Linked DNA regions of Homo sapiens. The protein of the gene in region 3 purifies or fractionates together with the protein of the main gene of each other region. This does not show direct contact. Each region holds a gene or a part of one and is shown on either strand. Other genes may lie near its edges. The genes, in order: NISCH, GINS1 and CSNK1G2.

What was found.
Region 1: the proteins of CSNK1G2 (region 3) and NISCH purify together in Homo sapiens (co-immunoprecipitation; 2 studies listed by BioGRID and IntAct, with this or other methods). This does not show direct contact.
Region 2: the proteins of CSNK1G2 (region 3) and GINS1 purify together in Homo sapiens (affinity purification with mass spectrometry; 2 studies listed by BioGRID and IntAct, with this or other methods). This does not show direct contact.

Annotation. Positions count from the first base shown.
Region 1 is NC_000003.12:52,458,187-52,466,125, forward strand, and holds part of NISCH (nischarin), read left to right. Parts: intron 1-475; coding exon 476-658; intron 659-7,939. UniProt on the Homo sapiens protein: Acts either as the functional imidazoline-1 receptor (I1R) candidate or as a membrane-associated mediator of the I1R signaling.
Region 2 is NC_000020.11:25,416,977-25,424,915, forward strand, and holds part of GINS1 (DNA replication complex GINS protein PSF1), read left to right. Parts: intron 1-127; coding exon 128-226; intron 227-1,128; coding exon 1,129-1,219; intron 1,220-2,707; coding exon of another isoform or gene 2,708-2,829; intron 2,830-3,869; coding exon of another isoform or gene 3,870-3,996; exon of another isoform or gene 3,997-4,012; intron 4,013-7,939. UniProt on the Homo sapiens protein: Required for correct functioning of the GINS complex, a complex that plays an essential role in the initiation of DNA replication, and progression of DNA replication forks.
Region 3 is NC_000019.10:1,964,835-1,972,773, reverse strand, and holds part of CSNK1G2 (casein kinase I), read right to left. Parts: intron 3,984-7,939; exon of another isoform or gene 3,869-3,983; intron 3,267-3,868; 5' UTR 3,002-3,266; coding exon 2,815-3,001; intron 1-2,814. UniProt on the Homo sapiens protein: Serine/threonine-protein kinase. Casein kinases are operationally defined by their preferential utilization of acidic proteins such as caseins as substrates. It can phosphorylate a large number of proteins. Participates in Wnt signaling.

The DNA.
Region 1 (7,939 bases), on a different chromosome or scaffold from region 3:
GACAGTTTCCTGGGAAGGGGACAGGTTTGAACTTGTTTGATCTAGCGATAGCTATTCCAAAGCCTTACTTTAATATCTGGCTGTGATTCCATCTCTTTTTTTTGCTTTTGGAGATGCTGTCTTTCTCTGGGTCATTTGCAGCATAACTGTTTTAAAGACACACCGCTGCCCTGATTGGTTTTTACTCTGGCTTGGAAAAGATGGCAATTTTAGGGGCAAAAGGTGTTACTTTTCTGAATGTCTCTAAAGTCTCCAGATGGAATTCCTTGTCTAGAATTGTATTGGTATTTCTAATGCTAATTGGATTTAAAGAGGCCAAATCCCAGGTGCACTAGTTTGGTCACTGATTTTGGTACTACTGCAGGGAGGGGCTGTGCAAGTGCTGACAAGCGCCTGCCCTCAAGCTTCTTGCCTTGGTCTTACATAGGCACAGAGCCTCTTAGTCTGTGGTTGATGTGCTTATGTTTTTTTACAGCTCGTTGCAGAGAGAAAGATTGATAAAAATCTGCTTCCGCCCAAAAAGATAATTGGGAAAAACTCAAGAAGCTTGGTGGAGAAGAGGGAGAAGGATCTGGAGGTCTACCTCCAGAAGCTCCTGGCTGCCTTCCCTGGCGTGACCCCCAGAGTACTGGCCCACTTCTTGCATTTTCACTTCTATGTAAGTTCCTCATCGGGTTTTCACCTGTGCCTGCAAACCCACAACTGCCAAACTTGAGGCAGCAAACCAGGGGAGACCTCAGCTTTGAGGTGGGCTGGGGTTTGACCCTAGGTTAGAAGATGGAGGAACGTCACCCTGGTTAGGAATGCATTGTGGCCAGAAGCATGTTAGTTGACAGATTTGCCGTAAATTAGACTAAATGTGGCCACAGAGATGCTTTCCTCCACCACAAGGCATTTTGTTTAGCAAAAATGGCCTGTGGGTGTTTAAGCTAGGTTTCCATCCAGATGGATGAGGCTGGATTAGAAATAGCTGACACCTGGGATAGACTATTGTTGAGTTGTTGGTGCATAGCCCAAAACTAATTAAGGGATTAGTCTGTGATGGTGGAATATCACCATCTTGGGGCGTGTCATCAGGGTCCGCGCTGCCAGGGTGCTAAGGTTGAGGGTGGACACCTTCCTGTGATGGGAGAGTGTGTCATAGAACAGCTCTGTACTCCGTCCTTGAAAGAGGAACAACTTTCATAGGTTGCCGGTGACAGAATGCGTTGTCAGACTTTAAGAAGGGCACTTAGGCAGTGTGAAACCACAATATTTGTGCTTTTGAGACGGAGTCTTGCTCTGTCACCTAGGCTGGAGTGCAGTGGTGCGATCTCGGCTCACTACAACCTCCGCCTCTTGGGTTCAAGCAATTCTCCTGCCTCAGCCTCCCGAGTAGCTGGGACTACAGACTTGCACCACCACACCCAGCTAATTTTTGTATTTTTAGTAGAGATGGGGTTTCACCATGTTGGCCAGACTGGTCTGGAACTCCTGACCTCAAGTGATCTGCCTGCCTCAGCCTCCCAAAGTGCTGGGATTACAGGCGTGTGCCACCGCACCTGGCCAAAACCACAATATTAAATAGCAGTTCTATTTATGAGAATTTCTTCTAAGGAAAAATCAGGCAGCCGCAAAAAGGATATATGAACAAAGGTAGTCATTCCAGGATTGTAACAAAATAGTAAGGACAACCCTAAAGTCTAGTAGAAGAGGTTAAAAAAAAAAAATCAGGCCAGGTGCAGTGGCTCATGCCTGTAATCCCAGCACTTTGAGAGGCTGAGGTGGGCAGATCACTTGAGGTCAGGAGTTCAAGACCATCCTGGCTAACATGGTGAAACCCTGTCTCTACTAAGAATACAAAAATTAGCTGGGTATGGTGGCAGATGCCTGTAATCCCAGCTATTTGGGAGGCTGAGGCAGGAGAATCGCTTGAACCCAAGAAGCAGAGGTTGCAGTAAGTCGAGATCATGTCACTGCACTCCAGCCTGGGCAACAGAGTGAGAGTAAGACTTCATCTCAAAAAAAAAAAAAAAAAAAAAAAAAATCAAAGGGTACAGCCAGGCTGAGCACAGTGGCTCATGCCTGTGATCCCAGCTCTTTGGGAAAATAAAACAAAAAAGAAATCTGCAGCTCCACCATCATTATCCCAGCAGCACACCAGTCTTCCCAGCAGACACTGTCTCAAAAAAAATGCAACTTTCTTAAGCAGTATCCAACTGTATGGCTGTACTATTTTTTTTTTTTTTTTTTTGAGACAGGGTCTCACTCCATTGCTCAGGCTGGAGGACAGTGGCCTGATCATGGGTCACTGCAACCTCAAACTCCTGGGCTCAAGGGATCTTCCTGCCTCAACTTCCCAAGTAGCTGGAACTACAGGTGCATGCCACCACACCCAGCTAATTTTAAAAATTTTTTTGTAGAGATGGGGTCTTGCAGTATTGCTCAGGTTGGCCTCAAACTCGAACTCAAGCCATCCTCCCACCTCTGCCTCTCAAAGTGCTTAGACTGTAGGTGTGAGCCACTGCACCTGGCTGACTATGGTCTCATTTTTACAAAAAACAAGTTGATATGGACATATTTGTCTAGGAAAATTCTAGAAGGTTTACGTATACCAAAATGCTAAGAGTAGTTTTCTCTGAGTGATAGATTTTCAGATAATTTATATTTACTTGTTTTCCTTTTATATGATGAAGACAGGGAAGAATCCACTCCCTTTTCAGGCTCACCTTGAAGTAACCTGTGGATTATGGTCCTAAAAGCCCAGCTGTATTTAAAATACAACTTTCTTGGCCAGGTGCAGTGGCTCACGCCTGTAATCCCAGCACTTTGGGAAGGCCCAGACAGGCAGATCACTTGAGGCCAGGAGTTCGAGACCAGCCTGGCCAACATAGCGAAACCCTGTCGCTACTAAAAATACAAAAATTAGCTGCGCGTGGTGACTCATGCCTGTAGTCCCAGCTACTCAGGAGAGAGGCATGAGAGTCGCTTGAACCTGGGAAGGGGAGGTTGCAGTGAGCCGAGGTTATGCCACTGCACTTCAGCATGGGCCACAGAGACTCTGTCTCAAAGAAAAAAACAAAAACAGAAGAAACAACTTCCTTAAACTCTTTTCAGAGTAAGACAGTTGAACCTTTCTTGGATCACTAAAGAGCCTAGAAATTTGGTGGCGAGTGCTAACCTGGGGCCACTGAGCTTGGCAGGGACAGGTGGAAAAGTAGATAGCATTCACAGATGGGACCTGTGTATATGCTTTGGATTTTATTTAGCATATACCAGCAAGTATAGGGTTAGCAACATACCCTTTCGTAAACATATTTTTATACTTTCTTATGTGAGAAAAAATTTGCATTCCTTATGCAAGTCTTTCAGATAAACTTTACTGGTTAGTATTTTAAGAAATAATGTACTTTAAAGGCCGGGCGCAGTGGCTCACGCCTGTAATCCCAGCACTTTGGGAGGCCGAGGCGGGTGGATCACGAGGTCAGGAGATCGAGACCATCCTGGCTAACACGGTGAAACCCCGTCTCTACTAAAAATACAAAAAATTAGCCAGGCATGGTGGTGGGCTCCTGTAGTCCTAGCTACTCGGGAGGCTGAGGCAGGAGAATGGCGTGAACCCGGGAGGCAGAGCTTGCAGTGAGCCAAGATCGTGTCACTGCACTCTAGCCTGGGCGACAGAGCAAGACTCCGTCACAAAAAAAAAAAAAAAAGAAATATTGTATTTTAAGAAAGCTTTGGTTAGCCATTTAGGGATGAAACCTGACATGCAGTCCTTTGACGGTATTAATTCCTTGCTTGAGACCTATGCCTTTGAGGAGAGGAGGTCTCGCTGGCTGCCTCACGTGTGCCTGGCTCTGAGGGTGGAAAGGCCTGGACTGCTCTTTTGAAACTGGTTTGCCTGAGATGTGCCTGGGGCCGGCTACATCTGGTTCTGGTTTGAGGCAGGCTCCGCTACTTGTAGAAGTTTTGACATATTTGGAATTAGTATTATCAAACAGGTCCCTAGGTTATATAAATCCTAGGATTTAAAAAAGCAATTGAACCCATCGTTGGATTAAACCCACAGTTGATCAGCCATAGCACTGTTGACATTTTGGACTGGATAATTTGTTTCTGTAAGGAGCTGTCCCATGCATTGTTTAGCAGCACCCTGGCTTCTACCCACTGGATGCCAGTAGCACTTCCCCACCCAGCTATGGCAACTAAAGATGTCTCCAGACATTGCCAAATGTCCCACTGGGGGGCAAAATTGCCCCCCACTTGAAAACCACTGGATTAGATCTTCATTTGGGGCCTAAAGATTTGTCAGCCTTTTCTCCAGGCTGGGAGCTCTCTGGGGAATGTTTCTCTTAACTTTTATACTGTCTGTATCCTCTCTGAAATTGTTCCACATGTGTTCTGCCTCTTGTGTTGCTGACATTGGATAGGGTGGACCCAGGGAACCCTATTTGGCTATGGTGTGAATTTTTTTATTTTTATTTTTTGAGACGGAGTTTCGTTCTTACTGGCCAGGCTGGAGTGCAGTGGTACGATCTCGGCTCACTGCAACCTCCACCTCCCAGGTTCAAGTGATTCTCCTGCCTCAGCCTCCCGAGTAGCTGGGATTACAGATGGCCCGCCACCACACCCAGCTAATTTTTTGTATTTTTAGTAGAGACGGGGTTTCACTATGTTGGTGAGGCTGGTCTCAAACGCTTGACCTCGTGATCCACCTGCCTCAGCCTCCCAAAGTGCTGGGATTACAGGCATGAGCCACCACGCCTGGCCATGGTGTGGATTTTTAAAAATTGAGATATAATTTACATACCATAAAATTAACTTTTTAATGTGTACAATTCAGTAGTTTTTAGTATATTCACAAAGTTGAGCGACCATCACCACTATCTAATTCCAGAACATTTCATCAGCCCAAAAAGGAACCTGTACCTGTTAGCAGGAGCTTCCCATCCCTCTGTCCCCCAGCCCCTGGCAGTCACTAATCTACTTTCTGTCCTTATGGATTTGCCTGTTCTGGACATTTCATATAAATAGAATCATACAGTGTGTGGCCTTTTGTGACTGGCTTCTTTCATTTAGCCTTATCTTTTCAAGGTCCGTTCATATTGTAGCATGAATCCATTGGTCCTTTTATGACGGAGTAATAGTGTATTATTTGGATATGCCACATTATGTTTATTTATTAGCAGTTGATGGATGTTAGGTTTGTTTCCATTTTTGGCCATTGCAAATGATGCTGCTATGAGCATTTGTATGTTAATTTTTGTGTGAACTTATGTTTTCATTTTTGTTGGATATATAGCCAAAAGTGGAACCTGAGTTATATGGTAACTATGTTTGACTTTTTGAGAAACTAACAAATTGTTCTCCACAGTTGTTGCACCATTTGACGTTTCCATCGGCAGTGTATAGGTTCTAATTTCCCCACATTCTTGCTTAACACTTCTTGTCCATTTTTTTTTAAATCTTAGTTGTTCTGGTGGGTGTGAAGTGGTATCTCATTGTGGTTTTAATTTACATTTCCCTAATGACTAATGTTATTGAACCTCTTTTTTTTTTTTTTTTTTTTTTTTTCTGAGACAGAGTCTCGCTCTGTCGCACAGGCTGGGGTGCAGGCATGTGATCCCGGCTCACTGCAACCTCTGTCTCCTGGGTTCAAGCGATTCTCGTGCCTCAGCCTCCCGAGTAGCTGGGACTACAGGCGTGCACCACCACGCCTGGCTAATTTTTGTATTTTTTTCATTAGAGACGGGGTTTCACCATGTCGGCCAGGATGGTCTCGAACTTCTGGCCTCAAGTGATTCGCCCACCTTGGCCTCCCAAAGTGCTGAGATTACAGGTGTGAGCCACCACACCTGGCCTGAGCCTCTTTTCATATGATATTTGGCCATTTGTGTATTTTCTTTGGAGAAAAGTATCCAATTCTTTGTCTTTTTAAAAATCAGATTGGGCCGGGCGCGGGTGGCTCATGCCTGTAATCCCAGCACTTTGGAAGGCTGAGGTGGGCGGATCACTTGAGGCCTGGAGTTCGAGACCAGCCTGGCCAACATGGAGAAACCCTGTCTCTACTAAAAATACAGAAATTAGCCGGGCATGGTGGTGTGTGCCTGTAATCTCAGCTCCTCGGGAGGCTGACGCACAAGAATGGCTTAAATCTGAGAGGCGAAGATTGCAATGAGTGAGACCACACCACTGCACTCCAGCCTGGGTGACAGAGTAAGACTGTCTAAAAAAACAAAAAAAACAAAAAAAACAGATTATCTTTGTTGTTGAGTTGTAAGAGTTCTTTATATATTCTGGCTACTAGACTTTTAGAAACATGCAAATACTTTTTCACATTCTGTGAGTTGTCTTTTTTTTTTTTTTTTTTTTTTTTTGAGACAGATTCTTGCTCTGTTGCCCAAGCTGGAGTATAGTGGCGTGATCTCGACTCACTGCAACCTCCACCCCTGGGGTTCAAGCGATTCTCGTGCCTCGGCCTCCCAAGTAGCTGGGACTACAGGCGTACGCAACCACGTCTGGCTGATTTTTGTATTTTTAGTAGAGATGGGGTTTTACCATGTTGGCCAGGCTGGTCTTGAACTCCTGACCTTAGGTGATACACCTGTCTCAGCCTCCCAAAGTGCCGGCATTACAGCCTGAGCCACCACATCCGGCCTGCCCAGCTAATTTTTCTATTTTTAGTAGAGACAGGGTTTTACTATGTTGGCCAGGCTGGTCTCGAACTCCTGACCTTAGGTGATCCACCTGCCTCAGCCTCCCAAATTGATGGGATAACAGGCGTAAGCCACCATGCCCGGCCATCTTTTCATTTTCTTGATGGTCTTCATTGAAGCACAAAAGATTTAGATTTTGATTAAGTTCAATTTATCAATTTCTTTGGTCACTTGTGTTTTGGTATCATACATGAGAAACCATTGCCCAATCCAAGGTCACAAAGATTTATAACAATATATTCCTGTATGGATTTTGTTTGTTTTTTGAGACAGGGTCTTGCTCTATTGCCTAGGCTGGAGTGCAGTGGCACCATCTCGGCTCACTGCAGCCTCAACCTCCCAGGCTCAAGCACTCCTCCCACCTCAACCCCCCAAGTAGCTGGGACTACAGGCATATGCCACCGTACTTGGCTAATTTTTGTACTTTTTGTGGAGATGGGGTTTCTCCATGTTGCCCAGGCTGGTCTCGAACTCCTGGGCTCAAGTGATCCACCCACCTCGGCCTCCCAAAGCGCTCGGTTTACAGGCGTGAGCCACCACACCCAGCCTGCAGTGTGGATTTTAATAACAAGGAAAGAAAGCACTACTTGTTTACCAGCCCACTTTAGGTGGGAGCGCAGGGGTTGCCGCCTGTATGAGTGAGGGGCACACTGTGGCACTGGCCTGTTGCTATGCTGCTCTTCAGATTGCTGTGTCCTGACCCTCCTGGACGCGTGGTGACAGGCCTCATCCCAGAACCCCTGGAACAGAGGTTTCCAAACTCAGTGAAATGGAATCCCATCCGGAATTCTAGCACACCATGTGGGCCGGGACCTCCAACTGTGGTGGACTTGGAGGCAGGCAGAGGCGAGTTTATCTCCCACCCCTACTTCCCAACGGTTTAGTCCAAGTCAGTCATTTAACCTGCCTGTGAGCTGGAGGCTGGTGAGCTGGGGTCCTTGTGAGGCCTGCAAGAGACTGTGCAGTGAAGGTCAATGGCTTAGAAGAGTGTTGGGCCTGAGGTTAGGGCTGACCATGTGCTAGCCATTACTAGGTGGTTCGGGAAAGAAAAGGAATTCATTTCTCTTGAAAGGTGTTTATATTGTTGTCTTCTTTTAAAGTTAGTTGGCTAGAACAAAGATCCTTTTCAAAATTTGGAATCAGGGGCTATGTTGAACTGTTACAATCTTAGCATTGGCTTTAGCATCCAATTTATTTCCATAATTTGTTTTAGTTGCAAAGTACTGAGGCTGTGAATTACAACA
Region 2 (7,939 bases), on a different chromosome or scaffold from region 3:
TGCTTAGGTTAACTGCTAATCACAAATGGATTAAAAACAAGCATGTAACTCAGTTGTTAGTTGGCTTTGAAAATTTTACTTATCCTGAAAAGTACATATTTTTTTTCTTTTTAAATGCTCCTATCAGGAATGAAGCAAAGTCAGGTGGACGAAGTGATTTGATACCAACTATCAAATTTCGACACTGTTCTCTGTTAAGAAATCGACGCTGCACTGTAGCATACCTGTAAGCTTCTCAGTTTTTGCTTGGGGTGGCAGGATTTTCTGTGTGGCTTCCCAGTTGACCATCTCAAATGGGTAACATGAAATCTTAGATCTCTCTCTCTTTGTAAGCATTCTAAATTTTTCCTCTGTGTTTTCATTTTTTTAATTTTTTATTATGAAAAATCACAACACTTTTAAAAGTAGGGAGAATAATACTATAATGAACCCCAGTGGAGCTATCATATGGTTTTAACAATTTTTATTATTTTGCCATATTTTTTTCATCGTGTTTCACTTGTTGGTGCCACACTATTTAAGTGCATCACGGTCTTTCACTACTGAATACGGTAGTGTTCTTACTATTTTTTCTTTGTCTTAGAAATAAGGACCTTTGGCCAGGCACAGTGGCTCATGCCTATAATCCCAGCAATTTTGGAGGCCAAGGCGGGTGGATCATCTGGGATCAGGAGTTCGAGACCAGCCTGGCCAACATGGTGAAACCCTGTCTCTACTAAAAATACAAAAATTAGCTGGGAGTGGTAGCGGGTGCCTAATCTCAGCTACTTGGGAGGCTGAGGCAGGAGAATTGCTTGAATCTGGGAGCCAGAGGTTGTAGTGAACGGAGATCGTGCCATTGCACTCCAGGCTGGGTGACAAGAGCAAAACTCTGTCTCAAACAAAAAAAGGCGGGGGAAAGAAAGAAATAAGGACCTTAGGGACCTTTTTCCCAGGACTACTGTGCTGCTGTCACACGTGGAGGAGTGGACAGTGCCTTCAGGTCGACTCTCAGACTGTGTTCATGTTCTTCTTGTTTTCCCTAAGATGTCTGTTTAGAGCTGGTGTGTTTGCATCAGGGGCCAAATGAAGTCCACACGTGATCCCCCGTTTATTCTTATGCCACCCAATACCTTCTTGATGTCCTAGGTATGACCGCTTGCTTCGGATCAGAGCACTCAGATGGGAATATGGTAGCGTCTTGCCAAATGCATTACGATTTCACATGGCTGCTGAAGAAGTGAGTTAGCATTGTTCAAGTTTATAAATTTTGAAAATGCTAAAGTTCTGGCATTGTTCTATAATAGTGTTTATTGGTATTCCTCTTTTTGTGTTTAATGTCTGTTTTTCCCCAATTTTTGGCTGGTATTTAGTATATAATGTGAGGGGAACTATGTGGTGAGGAGTAATTCTAAATCATATGTGGAAAATTCTATTATTACTTAACAAAATAGAGTCCCATGATGTTACTTATTAGTGATCCATCAGTGGGATTAAAAAACTGGCATTATTATTTGGTGATATTCCATGAAATGTTTACATGTGTATATATACTTTCCTAATCAAAATTCATATTTGCCTAGTCACTGAGGCAAAGAACTAGCCCATTATTTAAGGACATAGGATTGGAGTCAGGTGGGCTTAGGTTCAAATCTCTGCTGTCTAATATTGAGCAAGTCACTTGACCTGTTGCTGTGCCTAAATTTCCTTGTTACAGGATGAAGATCATATTACCTATCTATTACAGGTTGCAATGACTTTTGACACTAACTACCTGCAGTTATTGTCAACTAAGGAAGCTCACACAAGCTTTGATGTCCAGAGTGTTTATTGGGGCTTCATTACATAGACATGACTGATTAAATTGCTGGCCCTGTGATTGAGTTCAATCTTCATCCCTCTTCCCCTCCCTGGAGGTCAGACTGACATCAGGAGGGCCAAAGGCCCAATACTTTAATCACATGGTTGGTCTTTCTGGGGTAGCCAGTCCCAACTCTGAGTCATCTTGTTAGCACAGACTATGTAGGGGTTCACCACGAGTCACCTGAGTAGCACATACTCTCAGGGCACATCATAAATAACAAGACACTCCTATTACTTGAGAAAGTACAAGAATTTAGAAGCTACCTCCCAGGAATGAGGGAGAGAGGCCCACCAAATTCTTTATTCTACAACAGTGTTATTACAAGGCCTATCACAGGGTTACTTCAGGTGGTCCATGTGGAGCACAGCATAGGATGGCACTCAATAAATGTTAACAGTTACTACATTACAGTTGCATAGCACAGAGCTTAAGAAAGAAAATATTCAGTGCAGCAAACCACCATGGCACATGTATACCTATGTAACAAACCTGCACGTTCAGCACATGTATCCCAGAACTTAAAGAAAAAAAAAAAACAAATATTCAATGTGTTTGCCATTAGATTCTGCACATTTTTGAAAGTGATCTATTTGTTGTCATAGCTTCATTTTCATTCTGTTCATTTTCTGCATAAATAAATGAGTAATCTCTACCTCAGATTTACCAGTGACTACGAAATTGGTAACATGTTAGTACCTCACTTTATGCTCTTTGTGTTCAAATCTACTTATATTAATTGAACTTTGGGGTACTTACTGTGTATTATGGTGAGATGAACAGAACATTATGTTTCTCTAACGACAGTAGCTTTAATGATTTTTCTCATACAATATTTTAGATTAATTTTTTTGTGTATTTTTTGAGATGGAATCTCGCTCTGTTGCCCAGGCTGGAGTACAGTGGTGCATTCTCTGCTCACTGCAACTTCCGCCTCCTGGCTTCAAGCAATTCTCCTGCCTCAGCCTGCCAAGTAGCTGTGATTACAGGTGCGTGCCTCCATGCCTGGCTAATTTTTGTATTTTAGTAGAGACAGGGTTTCACTATGTTGGCTAGGCTGGTCTCGAACTCCTGACCTTGTGATCTGCCCCTCTTGGCCTCCCAAAGTGCTGGGATTCCAGGTGTGAGCCACAGCGCCTGGCGATTAATATGTTTCTTACAATTTAGTAAATGATTACAAGCTGCATTTATTCAAGCACATCAATTAGATTTCATATTGGGCATTGTTTCTGTAAGGGTGGCACTTTTCTGTGATTACTGAGTTCCCAAAGTCAGTTTCTATTTTAATGAAATATAACAATGTTAACAGCAAATAAAATATATATATATTTTTTTGAGATGGAGTCTCGCTCTGTTGCTCCAGCTGGAGTGCAGTGGCACGATCTTGGCTCACTGAAACCTCTGCCTCCCGGGTTCAAGCGATTCTCCTGCCTCAGCATCCCGAGTAACTGGGATTACAGGTGCCCACCACTACACCCAGCTAATTTTTGTATTTTTAGTAGAGACGGGGTTTCACTGTATTGGCCAGGCTGGTCCTGAGCTCCTGACCTGATGATCTGCCCACCTCAGCCTCCCAAAGTGCTGGGATTACAAGTGTGAGCCACAGTGCCTGGCCTTATATAAAATAATATTAATGGGTCTAGAGATTAAGTTGTTTGAGAATAGTGAAACCTGAGATAGTTTCTTGGAAGAGTTTGTGAATTACTGCAAAACTGGCAAATGACTTCCTTCTACCCCAGTGACCTCATCTATAAAAAGGAATATACCAGCCTGGCCAACATGGTGAAACCCTGTTTCTACTAAAAATACAAAGATTAGCTGGGTGTGGTGGTGTGCACCTGTAATCCCAGCTGGTCAGGGAGGCTGAGGGCAGGACAATTGCTTGAGCCTGGGAGGTGGAGGTTGCGATGAGCTGAGATCGCACCACTGCACTCTGGTCTGGGAGAGAGAGTGAGACCCTGTCTCAAAAAAAAAAAAAAAGAAAAAAAGAAAAAGAATAAAAGGAATATACATGGTCTCGTTCTCTTAGTAGTGATGTTTTGGAAACACTGAAGGATGAGAAGAGATTAATACAGATAAACTCTGTAGTAGACCACAGACATCTCTGCTTGAGCAATTGCATCGTGGCAACTGCATCAGCCATTTTGGACCAGTAACAAAGAATATTTCCAGGTATCCCTGACAGCTTATAGGAGCCTATGAGGTCTGAATGTCATCATAGGTATCTGTATTACCCAAGGATAGTGCTTCAATGGGTGACTGAAGCACATGGGCTTGAGTCTGCCACCTAAATTCAGATCCCTGCCTTGTTAACTCTGAGCCCTTTGGTAAATTATCTAATCTCTCAAAGCTTCAGTCCTTCATGAATAAAAAGAAAATAATAATAGTAGTTACATCATGGGGCAATGAAAAAGAGAAAATAATGCATATTAAAATTTTAGCAAATTCCTGGTATATAGTAAGCACTTTATTACTGGGAGTGATGATTTCAATATTGTTGACTCAGGCTAGCAATAAAAGTAAAAGCAGAGCTAAAATAAGGTTACTAACATGAAACAGATGATCATGTGTTAATGTTTAGAGAAAACACCATTGAAAGAATATGAAAGCACACTGATGATAAGTAAAAATCTTATTATCTGATTTCAAAGTAGTAACATCTTTTGTTTTCAAAGTAGTAACATCCTTTATGTTTTTAAAATAATAACATCTTTTGTTTTCAAAGTAGTAACATCTTTTATGTTTTTAAAATAGTAACATCTTTTGTTTTTTGATTTCCTAAGTTTCTGTTTAGAATCTTTAAGCCACTAACATGAGAGATAGTGAAAATAGGTATTTTTTTCTTTCCTATTAATATTTTTCCATAAGGAAAACTAAAAAATTTGTGACTATATCAGTATGTTCTTTTGTGGAAGTAACGTGCTTATTCTACATTTCCCTTTTATCTGTGAATGAGACTGAATGAGGGTAACACCCTCATTGTCAAAACAGCTTCTGATTTTTCTTCCACTTCATCTTCTCTTTGGGGTCTGTTACACTCTTCTCAGTGGAGACAAAGTAGAAAAGACCACAGTGGAAACACCCATGTTTGACTCATTTGGCAAGATCTCTCTCAGAGAACTTTTCTTCATACTTATCAATACAAAATATCATTTTTTATCCTTTATATTATAAAAAACAATGCAGTTTTTACCACCTTGGCATACATACCTTTTAAATCTTTTAAAATCACTTAATTTAACCATTTGCATTGTGAAATCTAACATAAAAACAGGCACATGCAAACACATCTGAAAAGGTGCAGAAAACGAAGATGTACAGCCCAATGATGTGTCACTGAGGAATTCCCATGTATCCATCACCCTGTTCAAGAAAGAACATTGCTCCGGAACCTTTGTGTCCCTCCTCCCAGTGATCACTACCCTCCTGACTTTTGTGCAGACTAATCACTTCCTTATTTTTAAAAATCTTATTGCTCTGGATGCAGTGGCTCACACCCGCAACCCCAGCACTTTGAGAGGCCAAGGTGGATGGATTGCCTGAGCTCACGAGTTTGAGACCAGCCTGAGCAACAGGGTGAAACCCTATCTCTACCAAAAAAAGAAAAAAAAAAACAAAAAAAAACTTAGCTAAGTGTGGTGGCATGCGCCTGTGGTCCCAGCTACTCAGAAGGCTGAGGTGGGAGGATCACTTGAGCTTTGGAGGTAGAGGTTGTAGTAAGCTGAGATTGCGCCACTGCACTCCAGCCTGGGTGACAGTGAGACCCTGTCTTAAAACAGCAACAAAAAAACTTGCCATTTACCACCTAAGCATGCATTTCTAAACACTATAATTTAGTGTTGCCCATTTTTTGAACTTTATATAGATTCATGCAGTATCCTTTAATGATTGATGACTTTCACTAAATGTAATATTTTTGAGATTCTAATCTGTTGATATATTAGCAAGAGCTCATTCCTTGTTTTTTATTTTGTTTAGACGGAGTTTTTTGCTCTTGTTGCCCAGGCTGGAGTGCTGTGGCGTGATCTTGGCTGACCGCAACCCCCGCCTCCCGGGTTCAAGCGATTCTCTTGCCTCAGCCTCCCAGCTATCTGGGATTACAGGCATGCACCACCACGCCTGGCTAATTTTTTGTATTTTTAGCAGAGATGGGTTTCTCCATGTTGGTCAGGCTGGTCTTGAACTCCCGACCTCAGGTGGTCCACCTGCCCCAGCCTCCCAAAGTGCTGGGATTACAGGTGTGAGCCACCACACCTGGCCGAGCTTATTCCTTTTTAATGCTGAATAGTATTTCTGGTTTTTTTTTTGTTTTTTTTGAGAGACAGTTTGACTCTGTCGCACAGGCTGGAGTGCAGTGGCATAGCTCGGCTCACTGCAACCTCCGCCTCCCTGGTTCAAGCAATCCTCCTGCTTCAGCCTCTGGAGTAGCTGGGACTACAGGTGTGTGCCACCATGCCCGGCTAATTTTTGTATTATTAGTGGAGGTGGGGTTTCACCATGTTCACCAGGCTGGTCTTGAACTCCTGGCCTCAAGAGATATGCCCACCTTGGTCTCCCAAAGCTGGGATTACAGGAGTGAGCCACCGTGCCTGGCCTACCCAGAGGTTATTAAGGTTATTAAGATATTTTTCTTTTCTTTTTTTTTTTTTTTTTTTTTTTTTTTTTTTTTTGAGACGGCATCTCACTCTGTCGCCCAGGCTGGAGTGCAGTGGCTCAATCTTGGCTCACTGCAAGCTCCACCTCCCGGGTTCAAGCCATTCTCCTACCTCAGCCTCCCAAGATATTTTTCTTCTCTCTTTTTTTTTTTTTTTTTCCGAGACGGAGTCTCTCTGTTGCCCCCAGGCTGGAGTGCAGTGGCATGATCTCAGCTCACTGCAAGCTCTACCTCCCGGGTTCATGCCATTCTTCTTCCTCAGCCTCCCGAGTAGCTGGGACTACTGGCGCCCGCCACCACGCCTGGCTAATTTTTTTGTATTTTTAGTAGAGACGGGGTTTCACCATGTTAGCCAGGATGGTCTCAATCTCCTGACCTCATGATCCACCCGCCTCGGCCTCTCAAAGTTCTGGGATTACAGGCGTGAGCCACCGTGCCCGGCCTTTTTTCTATGTAATCTTTTAGGAGCTATATTTTACCTTTTACAAAGAGATCTACAGTATTGGGATTAAGTTTTGTGTATACTACAGGAGGCATGCTTCATTTTGAATATAGATATTGAGATGACCCAGCACCATGTATTGAACAGATCTGCCTCTCCCATCACTGTGTGCATGGTGCCACCTTTGTCATACATTGAGTGTCAGTATTCCTGTGGATTCTGAATGGGAGGACTTTTTCTTCTGTTATGCTAGTCTATCTGTTCTTATACCAATTCCACTGTTGTAATTACTGTAACTATATAGTATAGTTGGAGCAAGTTCCCATCTTGTTCTTTTTTGAGAGCATTTCAACTATTAGCCCTTTGCACTTCCATGTAAATTTTAGACTCAGTTTGTCAGGTTCCATTTTAAAGAAAGTTAAGATTTTGATTGAGATTGAATTGAATCTATAGATTGTTGACGTTATTACAATATTGAATCATCCAATCTGTGAATATGGTATTATTTAGGTCTTTCATTGTTTTCAACTTTTTTTTTAAAATAGCAGATTTACTGAGATATGATTCATACACTGTGAAGTTTACCATCTTAAATTGTACAGTGCAGTGGTTTTTAGTATATTCAGAGTTGTTGTGCATCCAATACCACATTCTTATTTGAGAATATTTTCATCACCCTACAAAGAAGCCCTGTCCCCTTTATAGTTACTCTATATTTTCTTCCCTCCTCCCAGCTCCTGGAAATCCCGAATCTACTTTCTGTCTCTATAGATTTACCTATTACAGGTTTTTCATATGAGTAGAATCATGCAATATGTGGCCTTCTGTCTTTCATGTGGTAATGGCAATACGTTTCAGAACTTCATTGTTACTTATGGTTAAATAATGTTCCATCATATGGGCACATATCCATTCATCAGCTGGTGGACATTTGGGTTTTCTTAACAATGTTTTATAGTTTTCAGAAATAGCATCAATGCAGAGTTTGAAGATATAATTCTGA
Region 3 (7,939 bases):
GCTCACGCCTGTAATCCCAGCTACTCGGGAGGCTGAGGCAAGAGAATTGCTTGAACCCGAGAGGCAGAGGTTGTGGTGAGCCGAGATGGTGCCACTGCACTCCAGGCTGGGCAACAAGAGTGAAACTCCATCTCAAAAACAAAACAAAACAAAGCAAAGCAAAGCTGAGATGGAAAAACGTTTCATGAAATAATGGCTCACATTTTTCCAAAGTTAATTTGAAAAAGTACCAACACAGAGATCCAAGAAGTCAGTGGATCCCAAGCAGGATAAAAACAGAAAGCCTCATCTAAGGAGAGCATAGTCAATATTTTAAATCAAAGATAAAAACCTTAAAAACAGAAAAAACGACACATTCTAGAACATTCTAGACAACGGAACAACATTCAACAACCGGAGTCCACAACAGGCTCAACATCAAAGCCACCAACAGTCCTGAGTGCTGGGGACGTGGAGTGCTCGAGGAGCCCAGTGCTATTCAGTTCTATTTGGGCAGTTAGTTCTATTCAGAAGGGCCCAAATCCAGAAACAGCCAAGCGTCCCTGCGCTGGGAGCAGATGAAGAAGGGCTGGTGTGTCCTCCGATGGACGGCCTCCCGGCACCCCTGAGAAACCACGATGTGCGGCTGCCCGCGAAGCACACAGCGCCCAAAATGCCAGGCTGAAGAGAGCGCAAACCGCAACTCAGTAAAAGCTGGCGTCACCAGGCCGGGCGCAGTGGCTCACGCCTGTAATCCCAGCACTTTGGGAGGCCGAGGTGGGTGGATCACAAGGTCAGGAGATCAAGACCATCCTGGCTAACACAGTGAAACCCCATCTCTACTAAAAATACAAAATATTAGCCGGGTGTGGTGGCGGGCGCCTGTAGTCCCAGCTACTCGGGAGGCTGAGGCAGGAGAATGGCGTGAACCCGGGACGCGGAGCTTGCAGTGAGCCGAGATTGCGCCACTGCACTCCAGCCTGGGTGACCGAGCGAGACTCCGTCTCAAAAAAAAAAAAAAAAAAAAAGCTGGCATCACCCACGTCACTCTCATCTGCCTACAGGGACCTGCACTATTCAGCAGCCTGCAACCGCCGCCCAAGGACAGGACCCACATAGCCATCTGGGTTCCCAAAAGCCATACCCCGCAGGCTGCAGGTCACGGGGCTGTGCCAGGCATGTGTGTGCAGATGAGCCTGTGTGCCTGTGTATGCGTGGTTGTGGCTGTGTGCGCCTGTGTGCGTGTGCTTTAGTGTGCACATGTGCATTTGTGGGCACGTGTGTACATGTCTGCATGTGTCTGCACGTGTGTCTGAGCGTGCACACACACACGGGGTTGGGAGGCCACAGCTCCTGTTGGGAAAAGCTCAGTCTCTTGGCTGAGAAACGGAGCCCGGGCCTCCTGAGCCACAGGCCGTCGGACCGGCAGTGAGGCTTCGTGGCCCAAGCCCAGCCTCTGCGCAGAGGTGGAATCCCAGCAGCCTCCCCAAGGGCTGGGGTGGGATCTGGTTCGGGTGGGGTCTCAAACCCCGGCCTCCTGGGGCCCTGGGTGCAACCAATGGGAACACAGAAACAGCCAACAGTGACCCCAACAGCTGCCCTCGCCTGGGAGAAGCTGCTTGACTCATAGGACACACACTTCTGCCGCATAACTGCCTGCTGAACCCTTCTGCCCACGAGTGGCAACTACCATTCATCCTCATTTAACAGGTGGGTAAAGTGAGGCAGGAGGTGGGAAGCAGGGCCACAAAACATGCCTGGGGTCCAGGCCGCCACAGCCCATGCTCCTGCGCCCCTGGGCGGCCGCTCTTGAAGATGCAGCCACATCATGACCACTGCGTGGGCCTGTTTCCCTCATCTGACAACCTCATCGGGCTGAGTGCCTGCCATGGGTGCCATGGGCACCGCCTGCCATGGGTGCCCACGTGAGGCCGATCCACTGCCGTGGCCTCTCGGACCTGCCCATCCTGCGCTCTTTCCCAGGGACCCTGATTCCCACCACGACAGACACTGACTGGGGGTGCACCTGGGTTCCCCGGACAACCCCAGCAACAGACGCCAAATGCCCTCCCGCAGGAGCTCCGGCAGCACCAGCAATAAATTTAACCACATTTCCGGGGATGATTCAGCTCCCTGGCCCAGCTAATCACAGACTGGGAACGGCCCCAAAGGTGCTCAGAGCTCCCCCAGGCCTGATGGTCATCTTCAGGCACCCCCACCCCAGGGAAGGCACCCCTGGCCAATGAGAGGCTCAGTCCTCGGCCCTGCTCCTCACGCCTGCCCGGGCAATCAGACCCCGACCCGGGAGAGGTTGGTGTGAGCAGAAGGGACGGAGCCAGGTGGGCCAGGTGCGGCCTTTTACATGGTGAAGCTGGGAGTGGCACACAGCAGTATCATCACCACAGAACAGTCACTCCAGCCACCTGACGCCAGCTCCGGGCTGGCCAAGACCTCCCACGAGCTGAGTGCCGGGCAGGCACCTGCCGTTAAAGCCGGGGCTTCGCCCAGCGTGCACATGGGCCATGAAAGTCATTCACAACTTAACATCGGGCTCCTTGCGGCGTGGCCTGGCCTGCTCTGGGCCACCTGCCTCCCAACAGAACTGTTTCCCGAAAAGGTGACAGGGCCAGAAACCCACTCTCCCCACAGAACCTCCTCGAAGGGAAGTGGCACTCGCACCACGACGGACTGATGATTCAACGCACCTGCCAGTGACATGGGGCGGCCCCGCCAGAGGCTCCAGTGACCCCGGGCGGCCCCACCAGAGGCTCCGGTGACTCGGGGCGGCCCTGCCAGCAGCCTCCCGACCCCACCTACCACCGAGCAGGGCCTCACCTAGGCGGAGCTCCCCGAAGTTGCCGCAGCCGATCTTCTTGCCGACGCGGAAGTTGGGGCCCACCATCAGGACCCCCGAGCTGGTCCCCGAGCTCCGGATGCCGTGGCTGCTCCGGCCCCCGCCGGCCTTGGACATTCTCCGGCCCTCCTCCGTCTCCCCTTTCCCTCCTTTCTTGTCAAAATCCATAAGTTTGTGATACCCTGGCCTCTCCACGGTGACTCTGCTGCCGTGCAAATCCCAAGTCTCTGGAAACCTGAGGTCTTGGCTCCTCTGTGGCTAGAACATCACTGCGGCCGGTGGGCGGGCGTGGGCCCGTGGCTCCCAGCTACTGAGACGCAGGCGTTCGGGCCGGCCAGGCCGCGCTGCTCTTCTCAGTGGCCTCGGGGTCGCTCTCGGGGGCAGGAGACATTCTGCTGACACATCCCACCGCCTCAAAGCTCACGGCTCACAGCTGCAGAGAAACAGAGGCACAGGTGAGCACCGGCAAGGCCCCCGCGGGGCCACTGAGGACACGGGGCGGAGGCCACAGAGGACACAGCCAGGAGACTGCTGGGCTGGAAGGAGCTCTGAAGGCCGGGGCATGATGAGCACCGTCCCTGCCCGGAACCCAGCTGGGAAGCACACATCACATGACATCAGAGGCCAGAGATCTCGGCGTGGCTGCCTGGGGACGAACAGGGTAGGGCTCAGGGGGCTTTCTGTAAAGCGGGATGGGTGGGTGGGTGGGTGGGTGGCACAGGTGGGAGAGTGTACTGCCAGGAGAGCATGACTGCCAATCCCGGGTAGAAGCCCTGAGGATCCTGAAGCCAGGGGAGCAGTCGCACCCCCAGACACAGAGGGGCCACACAACAGTCCCCGTATCCAGGCCCAGGGCCGCTCTGGGAAAGAGGGAGGGAGGCAGATGACAGCAGGCAGGCCCGAGGCAGGGACACAGGAGCCACCGAGCTGCCCCTGCCCATGGCGACTGGTTGATGCTGAGAGCGGGGAGAGTGGGCCGGAGGGCAGGAGGCCCCGGAGAGCCGGGCACTGATGCAGGAGCCCCCAGGGCCTGACCCAGGCTCGGGTTCTTCTCCAGCAGCCACTGGTGGAGCGGGGCAGGCTGGACGCCACTCGAGGCTGTGATGATGCCAGGCTGGGTCGGACCCATCCCCTTCGGTGCAGAGCGGAGCTGAGGAGGGAATGGCGGGGCTTGAGGGACCAGCGGAGCCAACAGCCACCTAAGCAAGGCTGGGCACGGGGCAGGCAGCAAACTTCTACCCCAGGGGAAAAGACAGAAGCCTCTGGTCCTGAGAAGGAACACGCAGTCCCTGCTCCCGGGATGGTGGGACCCCAGCCCACAGCCCCTCGCTGAGTCTGCACCACCTTAAATGCTCCCGAGCCCAGAGCTGAGGGCCCCAGAGCCTGTTGCCACCCACAGAGAAACGCCGTGTCTGGACAGGGGCTCATGGCTGAGGGGACTCTGTGCAGGTCGCTCTCTGGAGCGAGGGGGCCAGCCAGCCCCGGCTGGCATGGAGCCCAGTCTCAGCGCAGGCCCCGACGGGAGGCAGGACGGTCCCCAGCAAGGAGCCTCGGGACAGCCTGGGGAGGAGGGAGGAGGGAGGAGCCCCACCTGCAGAACTGAAGGGTGGTCAGGGGCAGCCTGGGGAGGAGGGAGGAGCCCCCACCTGCAGAACTGAAGGGTGGTCGGGGGCAGCCTGGGGAGGAGGGAGGAGCCCCACCTGCAGAACTGAAGGGTGGTCTGGGGCAGCCTGGGGAGGAGGGAGGAGGGAGGAGCCCCACCTGCAGAACTGAAGGGTGGTCAGGGACAGCCTGGGGAGGAGCCCCACCTGCAGAACTGAAGGGTGGTCGGGGGCAGCCTGGGGAGGAGGGAGGAGGGAGGAGCCCCACCTGCAGAACTGAAGGGTGGTGGGGGCAGCCTGGGGAGGAGGGAGGAGCCCCCACCTGCAGAACTGAAGGGTGGTCGGGGGCAGCCTGGGGAGGAGGGAGGAGCCCCACCTGCAGAACTGAAGGGTGGTCGGGGGCAGCCTGGGGAGAAGGGAGGAGGGAGGAGCCCCACCTGCAGAACTGAAGGGTGGTCGGGGGCAGCCTGGGGAGAAGGGAGGAGGGAGGAGCCCCACCTGCAGAACTGAAGGGTGGTCGGGGGCAGCCTGGGGAGGAGGGAGGAAGGAGGAGCCCCACCTGCAGAACTGAAGGGTGGTCGGGGGCAGCCTGGGGAGGAGGGAGGAAGGAGGAGCCCCACCTGCAGAACTGAAGGGTGGTGGGGGCAGCCTGGGGAGGAGGGAGGAGCCCCACCTGCAGAACTGAAGGGTGGCAGCTGTGGTGTTAACTGGACGCTCGGGTGGTGCAACCCCAGGGACGCGGCTGTCACCTCGTCGCCCTCAAGCCAGGTACCCGCCCAGGAGGCCAAGAACCCTGCACCGGGAGCCACCGCAGCCACCTGCCTGTCTGCACAGATCCTGCCGGGTCCTCCCTGACCCAGGCCCCAGCCACCCCTGGCCCCATTCTAGGGCTCCAGACAGACAGAAGCCCCACCCTCACTGAAGAAGGGGGACCACAGTTTGCTGCTGTGCCCCAGATGTGCAGGGGAAGAGGTTTCCTGCCAACCGGCAGGACGTAGGGGCCGCGGGTGAAGAGGGGCCGTGGGTGCACAGCCATCGCCGAAAATGTTAGGACAGGAACTCCCAGCTGAGTAAGCCACATCAGAAACGAAGGCACCGGCGTCACAAGCACTGCCCCCCTGGATGTGGCCCCTGCGTTCCGGTGCCAGAAACACCCTGTGGGGATCACAGGCCTTGGGTTCCGCACGGCAACAGCCGCTCGAATGTTCTGGTTTCCCAGTGCACACACAAGTTACGTTCACAGTATACCGTGGTCTAGGAAGTGTGCAGTAGCGTTGTGTCTAATCAAAGGACACACTTTAATTAAGCGGGGCGTGGTGTGCAAGCCTGTGGTCCCAGCTACTCGGGAGACTGAGGCGGGAGGATCGTTTGAGCCCAGGAGGCGGAGGCTGCAGTGAGCTATGATCGCACCACTGCACTCCAGCCTGGGGGATACAGCAAGACCCCATCTTAAATAAATAATAAAGAAATAAAAATACTTTACTGCTAAGCAATGGTAATGATCATGGGAACCGGGAGTGGCCCTAATCTCCCCGGAGAAGGGTCTTGCCTCAATGTGGACGGCGGCTGACTCGTTGGGGCGGTGGCTGCTGGAGGCTGGGGCAACTTCTTAAACTATGACCACAAAAAAGTTGGCCACAGCGATGGACTCTTCCTTTCATGAAAGATTTCTCTGTGGGGCGTGATGCTGTCTGATAGCATTGATTACCCACAGCAGAACGTCTTTCAGAACTGCAGTCGGTCCTCTCAACCCGGCCGCGGCTTCATCAACCGAGGTTCCGGGCTGTTCCAAGTTCTTTGTCCTCATTACCCCCAGGTTCACAGAATCTTCACTGGGACTAGAGCGCAACTGAAGCAACTCCCCTGCTCACCCTTCAGAGGCAACTCCTCACGTGTTAAAGTTTTCTCGCGAGACAGCGACAATGCAGTCACATCTCCAAGTCCTTCTCATTCTAGTTCTCTTGCTGCTTCTAAAACCTCTACAGTCCCTCCTCCACTGAAGTCCTGAACCCTCACAGTGATCTTTCAGGCCTGGGACCAACTTCTTCCAAACTTCCGCTCATCCTGACATGTTACCTCCTCCCATGGATCACGCGTGTCCTTCACAGCCTCTAGAACGGCAAAGCCTTTCCGGGGGTTTCAATTTACCCAATTTCCCCAGCTCCATCAGAGGAATTGCTCTCCACGGCACCTACAGGCACCTAGAGCCTTACAAATGTATTTCTCAATAATGAGAGTCATGGGCGGCTGCGGTGGCTCCTGCCTGTAACCCCGACACTTTGGGAGGCTGACGCAGGCAGACTGCTTGAGGCCGGGAGTTCAAGACCAGCCTGGGCAACACAGGGAGACCCTATCTTTACAAAAATAAAAACAAAATTAGCCAGTCATGGCGGTGCGCACCTGTGGTCCTAGCTACTTAGGAGACTGAGGTGAGAGGATCGCTTGAGCCTGGGAGGTGGAGGCTAAAGTGAGCTGTGATTCTGCTTCTCCACTGCAGCCTGGGAGACACAGTGAGACCGTGCCTCAAAAACACTAAGACTTGGCCAGGCACAGTGGCTCAGGCCTGTAGTCCCAGCACTTTGGGAGGCTGAGGCGGGCAGACTGCTTTGAGCTCAGGAGTTCAAGACCAGCCTGAGGAACATGGTGAAACCCCCTATGAAAAAATATAAAAATTAGCTGGGCATGGTGGCACGCACCTGTAGCCCCAGCTACTCAGGAGGCTGAGGAAAGACAATTGCTTCAACCCGGGAGGTGGAGGATGCAGTGAGCCAAGATCGTGCTACTGCACTCCAGCCTGGGTGACAGTGGGACACCTTGTCATGCATAAATAAATGAATGAATGACATGTCAAGGAGTCATCTTGATTTCCGAGTCATTCATTCATTCATTGATCCACAGGCTACAGGCTGGATGTTGTGCTAGCAGGGATGGAAACAATGATCTTTTTTTTTTTTTTGGAAACGGAGTCTCGCTCTGTCGCCCAGGCTGGAGTGCAGTGGCACAATCTCGGCTCACTGCAACCTCCGCCTCCTGGGTTCATGCCATTCTCCTGCCTCAGCCTCCTGAGTAGCTGGGACTAAAGGCGCCCGCCACCACGGCCGGTTAATTTTTTGTATTTTTAGTAGAGACGCGGTTTCACTGTGGTCTCGATCTCCTGACCTCGTGATCTGCCCGCCTTGGCCTCCCGAAGTGCTGGGATCACAGGTGTGAGCCACCGCGCCCGGCCGGAAACTGATCGTGTACGTCTCCACTAGGGATCTTGGGTGACCAGGTGCGTTGTCAGTGAGCAGTCATATTTTGAAAGAAATCTTTTTGGCCAGGCGCGGTGGCTCACACCTGTAATCCCAGCAGTTTGGGAGGCCGAGGCAGGCGGATCATGAAGTCAGGAGATCGAGACCATCCTGGCTAATACGCTGAAACCCCGTTTCTACTAAAATTACAAAAACATTAGCTGGGCATGGTCGTGGGCTCCTGTAGTCCCAGCTACTCGGGAAGCTGAGGCAGG